2 separate regions of the Homo sapiens genome follow, and region 1 is linked to region 2. Evidence: fine-mapped expression QTL. A gene starts in region 2. The other region holds a variant in brackets. All regions are shown on one strand. Distances are between the middles of the regions.

What was found. PIP is the estimated chance that this variant, and not a neighbour inherited with it, causes the effect. A credible set is the group of variants that fine-mapping cannot tell apart.
Region 1: its variant is the best candidate, but not a certain one, in a credible set for the expression of PERP in subcutaneous fat (GTEx, PIP 0.76).

Annotation. Positions count from the first base shown.
Region 1 is chr6:138,010,102-138,013,014 of GRCh38, reverse strand. No RefSeq gene overlaps it. Among named protein-coding and RNA genes, the nearest start is that of SIMALR, 66 kb to the right of the region's middle. The variant G/A (reference allele first, on the strand shown) is at 1,619.
Region 2 is chr6:138,105,898-138,108,810 of GRCh38, reverse strand. It overlaps PERP (p53 apoptosis effector related to PMP22), which reads left to right and starts at 1,392. Exons shown (of 3, transcript NM_022121.5): 1 at 1,392-1,684. The coding sequence starts at 1,471. RefSeq lists a silencer at 1,214-1,263.

The DNA.
Region 1 (2,913 bases), 96 kb after region 2:
ATTACCATCTGACATTCTCTGACTAAGCTTTCTCATCTACATCACCAATACCTTCCTTCTATACTACAAACATAGCAGGCATTTCGGCCTATATTTTTCTCTTTGTACTCTTTGGCTTCTATGACATATTACTTCCTGGTTCTTCTCTTGCTACTTGGATCACACCTACTTGGCCCCCTTCCAGGAAATCTCATTCTCTGGCCTCCACTTAAATGTTGGTGTTGCCCAGAACTCTGTTCTCAGCCTTCTTTTCTTTGTAAAAGCCATAGATGCAAATAGTACTAGTGATATTTATTGTTCTGAAATGTATGTTTACAATCTCTTTCCTCAGCTGCATATAATGGACACCCCGGCCTGGATGTCCTTAAACTCAGCATTCCTTATTCCAGAATTTCTTCTTTCTTTCTTTTTTTGAGATATGGTGTCAATCTGTCACCCAGGCTGAAGTGCAGTGGTGCAATCTCAGCCCACTGCAACCTCTGCTTCCCAGGGGCTTAAGGAATCCTCCCACCTCAACCTCCCAAGTAGCTGAGACTACAGGTGTGTGCCACCACATCTAATTTATTTTTTAGTTTTTATTTTTATTTTTGTAGAGATGGGATTTTGCCATGTTTCCCAGGCTGGTCTGGAACTCCTGGACCCAAGCAATCTGCCTGCCTCAGCCTCGCAAAGTGCTGGGGTTACAAGCGTGAGCCACTGCACCCAGCCCCAGAATTCTTTATTTCTGAGAATGACATTGTCATTCTCTAAATGACCCAGGCAAAGCCTGAAGCATAATCTTAAATTTCTCCTCCTGCTCCCTCCTTATATTCTCTTCACCCACCCCCCATATTCAATTGTACCCATTCTATCCTTCTAAATGTCACTCATATTTTTCTCTCTATCACCATCATAAGGGCTAATACTGAATAATCATTAAGGGCAGGTATTGTACCATATATCATCTTGTTCCTAGTGCATAGAATATTGGCACAATTTCACTATATTTTATAGAATATATGAAAGAATGAATAAGGGAATATACAAGTAAATAGATGGACCAATCAATTCAAGTTCAGTCTTTCTGACTTTAAGAAACAGAGACGTTTGTAACCTAGGTTAACGGAAGTACAAAGGGAGGTAGGGTATCTTAGTTTAAGGAAACACATAGCATACAGGGAGATGAACCAAAACGCAAAATAAGAAACAGTAGACCAGCCAGTATTCTGTCAAGGCAGCGGTCTCTAAGAACCTCAACTCCTGGAGTTTCTGAAACTTCACTCTAATTCTCCTCCATTTATAGGAGTCTGCTATTTTCTGGGGGGGGTCTGCTCTGTTTGCCTCTCAGTACATCTCATTTACCCCTTTACTCAGCATATGTTTTTCCTGCATACATCACTGAATCTGCCTACTCATAGTTTCTGCCTTCTCATTGCTGCTTGGCCATGACTTGCTGTGATCACAACATGACCTCCTACCTTCATCTAAACATCACTCCAACTTTAGCTCCTACTGTCTGGTTCTCTCTGTACTTCCCAATTCAAGTCCCCAAGGGCAAGAAATGGATGGACCTGGCTCAGTTTGAAAATGCCACTCCACTGAATAACTGCTCTTGAGCAATTGTCCAACCCAGTCCACC[G/A]TGTTTGGTAATGAAGAGTCCCATGACCCAAACCATGGCTGGAACAGTAGTCGTGGCAGGGATTGTGACAGACGTGGAACACAAACACTCATCATGTTGCTCCCAGGGTTATCAAAAATATATGAATTCTTACCCCCAAGGAGGGTGGAAAGGGGCTCACCCAAGGTAGTGGGAAATGCTGGGCTAAAGAAGGCAGCAGAGTCAAAACCCACCGAGGAATGTTAAGGCTACGAATGCCAGGGTGGGACTCCAGAGAATCAACACATGCTTTATGGGGGAATAGCACCATAGCTATGTTTTTTTGTTTTTGTTTTTGTTTTTTTTTTTTTTTTTGAGATGGAGTCTTGCTCCGTTGCCCAGGCTTGGGTGCAGTGGTATGATCTCCGCTCATTCTAATTTTCACCTCCTGGGTTCAAGCAATTCTCCTGCCTCAGCCTCCTGAGTAGCTGGGCTTATAGGCACTCACTACCATGCTGGCTAATTTTTGTATTTTTAGTAGAGACAGAGTTTCACCGGGTTGGCCAGGCTGGTCTCGAACTCCTGACCTCAAGTGATCTGTCTGCCTCGGCCTCCCAAAGTGCTGGGATTACAGGCATGAGCCACCATGCCAGGCCCATAGCAATGCTTTTGGTGGGAAGGAAGAGCAAGATTTGAGAATGTCCTAAGAATATTACTTTCCAACTCTAGGTTACACAGCACAAAGGCCCAGAAGCAAAACAGACAGTTTTTGGGAGCTGATTTCTTTGCTTCTAGGCTAGCCCCCACTGTGGCTGCCATTTTTAGATTTTAAGTAACATTTTCCCTGATGATAAAAATGGTTACTTAAAAATCTGGAAAATAATTAATTAAAAAATAAAAATTAATGGTATTTTCCCTACCTAGCAAGAACCACAGTCACAATTTCATAAAATTTTGTAGTCTTTTTCTCTATGCATTTTTTTTTCCTAAAAGGTTGAGGTTTTATATTGTAATTTTTTTCTTTTTCTTTTCTTTTTTTTTTTTGAGACAGAGTCTCACTCTGTCACCCAGGCTGGAGTGCTGTGGTGCGATCTCGGCTCACTGCAAACTCCACCTCCTGGGTTCACGCCATTCTCCTGCCTTAGCCTCCTGAGTAGCTGGGACTACAGGCGCCCGCCACCACGCCCAGCTGACTTTTTTTTTGTATATTTAGTAGAGACGGGGTTTCACCGTGTTAGCCAAGATGGTCTCGATCTCCTGACCTCGTGATCCACCTGCCTTGGCCTCCCAAAGTGCTGGGATTACAGGCGTGAGCCACCATGCCGGGCTGACTTTTT
Region 2 (2,913 bases):
ATACAAAATTAACTTTTGGCAGAACACCCTCTTGTGTTCTTTGAAAGTGAAAATATTTTCCTGTAATAAAAATATATGACGTGGTTTATGTAAAACTTGAATTATGTAAAATGAAGGCTAGGGAAATTATTTCATGTATTTTCAGATACTTTCTCCATGCTTTTATTCGTCCTCAAGAATTGCCAGAAAATGGCATAAGTCAAAAGAGTATTCTGTTTCTATTGAGAATATCAAATTGGAATACAATTTAAAATATTTTTAAGTAGTTCCCACTTTTATATTAAATTAACAGAAAAAATAGGGGATTCAGAAGAAATCTTTGGAGGTACAGGGTTAAGACATGACCCCCATACGATGTTTCAGTGATTTTCCCAAGGCCACCGAGGTGCCTGACACTGAGAACTCCTTTGTCCTCAGCGGCACACCTGGCTGCCACCCCACCCTTCCTGTCACATCTTAGGAGTCAGAACTGCGACGGGAGCTAGCCCAGGACACCGAAGGGGGGATCCTAAATGCAGGTTGCATGCTGACGTATGATTTTTATTTGGAAAAACCTCAAAATAGTAAATGAAGAGTAGAGAGAGTGCAGTTTAAATAGGTAGAGATTCGTGATAGGAAGTGGACTGCAGCAGAGGCGACATGAAATTATCTGGGGAAGCCAGATGAAGCCTTTCCGAAAGGAAGCGAGCATTTGTTAAATTACATGTTCATTCATCAAATTCACTGAGCTCCCCTTGAGATCCAAACACGGTGCCGGACACTAAGGATACACAGATAAATTCAGCATCGCCTCCGCTTTCCAAAATCTGGCAACCCAGCAGGAAAGAACAGCATGCAAAGAGATAAGAGTACCCGGGGAGCCACGGTCCAAGGTGCAAAGGCGGAGCCTAGGAGGAAGGGATCACCTGTGTCAGCAGGGGTCAGGGACGGGCTTCTGGGTTTGGGTGCACGCGTCCAAAGGAGTGCAGCCTTTATCCACAGGTGCAATTAGAACACCCATCTCACACTGCTGAAAACTCAGATATGGCACTGCTGACCACCGCCCCACGATGCGACATCAGGGGTCAGATATTAGGCTGGCGCTGTGCAGATAAACAAGTGTATATGTTGGTGCGCCAGGAAGACAAAACACGCGCCTGGAGAGGCCAGGAGAGCGGGACTGGAGGGTTGTGGGACGCGCGGGACCCTCGGGCCGCCTTCCGCCGCCGCCCGGTGTCACCAGAACCCAGCCTGTTTACCAGCGGCCCCGCCCGCCCCGGCCCGGCAGGGCAGGTCGGGGCGGGCGCGCTCTGAGTCACCGGAATCTAGGTGGGGCCGCCCGGAGCGGCGTCCTCGGGAGCCGCCTCCCCGCGGCCTCTTCGCTTTTGTGGCGGCGCCCGCGCTCGCAGGCCACTCTCTGCTGTCGCCCGTCCCGCGCGCTCCTCCGACCCGCTCCGCTCCGCTCCGCTCGGCCCCGCGCCGCCCGTCAACATGATCCGCTGCGGCCTGGCCTGCGAGCGCTGCCGCTGGATCCTGCCCCTGCTCCTACTCAGCGCCATCGCCTTCGACATCATCGCGCTGGCCGGCCGCGGCTGGTTGCAGTCTAGCGACCACGGCCAGACGTCCTCGCTGTGGTGGAAATGCTCCCAAGAGGGCGGCGGCAGCGGGTCCTACGAGGAGGGCTGTCAGAGCCTCATGGAGTACGGTGAGTGCCCGCCGCCGCCGCCGTCGCCGCCTCCAGGAAGCCCTCGGGGCCGCGGCCTGCAAAAGCCGCCGCGCGTGATGGGCCCTCACAGGGTCGGGGGAGCCAGTGCTTTTCAGAATGCCTGTTTAGGACGAGCTCGGGCTCATGCATCCGACCTGAACCAAATGCAGCAGCAGTAGCTTTGGGTGGCCAACACCAAGCTCAGAAACAGAAAAAAAAAAAAGGCCGTAGTTCAAACTGTATAGTTTTTTTCCTGGGTTTTGTCGGTTACGTACGAAAGATTATTTCAAGCATTGCAAGTTTAGATGAGTAAATATAATGAACAAAGTTTCTTGGAGACCTGAAATTTCTTCCCATTTCTCTTCCTTCTCGTTTCTTCTTATGATTAAAATATAAATATTGAAATAACGTGCCTTCCCTAATATCAGTGGATTCGTTCAACTTGATATAGCTGAAAAAACTTTCTCATTTAAAAAAGCCCTTTCAGGCAGTTTTAGCAGTTAACGTTTTCAATAGATATTTCAGTCTACTTTACCGGTCAGGCTAGTTCTTGTTAGCTCTTGTTCTAGGGCGTGTCCTTTGGTTTAAGCATGGCATTGTTGTTTAGAAAACTTAATTATTTTAATCCGATTTGAAATCTAAAAAGCAAACACATTCCCTACACTCGCGACGTGAAGCAGAGTTGACAAATTTAATGTACCTAGCAGGTGAAGTACTGTATGCCATTTTCCCAGCATGGAGGAAGCTCCCTGCTTGCCTTGCTGAAAGTCAGGACTGGAGCATAGTTCTTGTCTGAGAAGGCATTTTCTTTCACAGTGGGAAGCCCCCTCTCCTTTCCTGGGGGTGGATGGGAATCACAGCTGGGGTCTACTGTGATTAGCAATGTGTGTGGGGGTGGAGATGGGGTCTGTGAGAGCCTAATAAAACCTTAAAGCCAAATGGGCTTTACCTACCGGGTTTAATAGTTTTAAACACAGACAGCAAGCTACCCTGCCTGTTTTCATTTCTTACTATTACCATTGACTTGATTTTTTTCTTTGAAGTGGCCCAGGGCTTCCAACCCAATCCTGTTTATTTGTGTTTCCGGGGGACTATATCAGCAACTTGGTGCCCTTTCTTTTGTGTAATCCTTTGGACGTCACTTCCCCACAAAAGGAAGCATGGTCCCCATTAGCCAGGTAATAAAATGTAAACACTGCAGAAAATTCCAGCTTTCTTTGCAGTTTGTG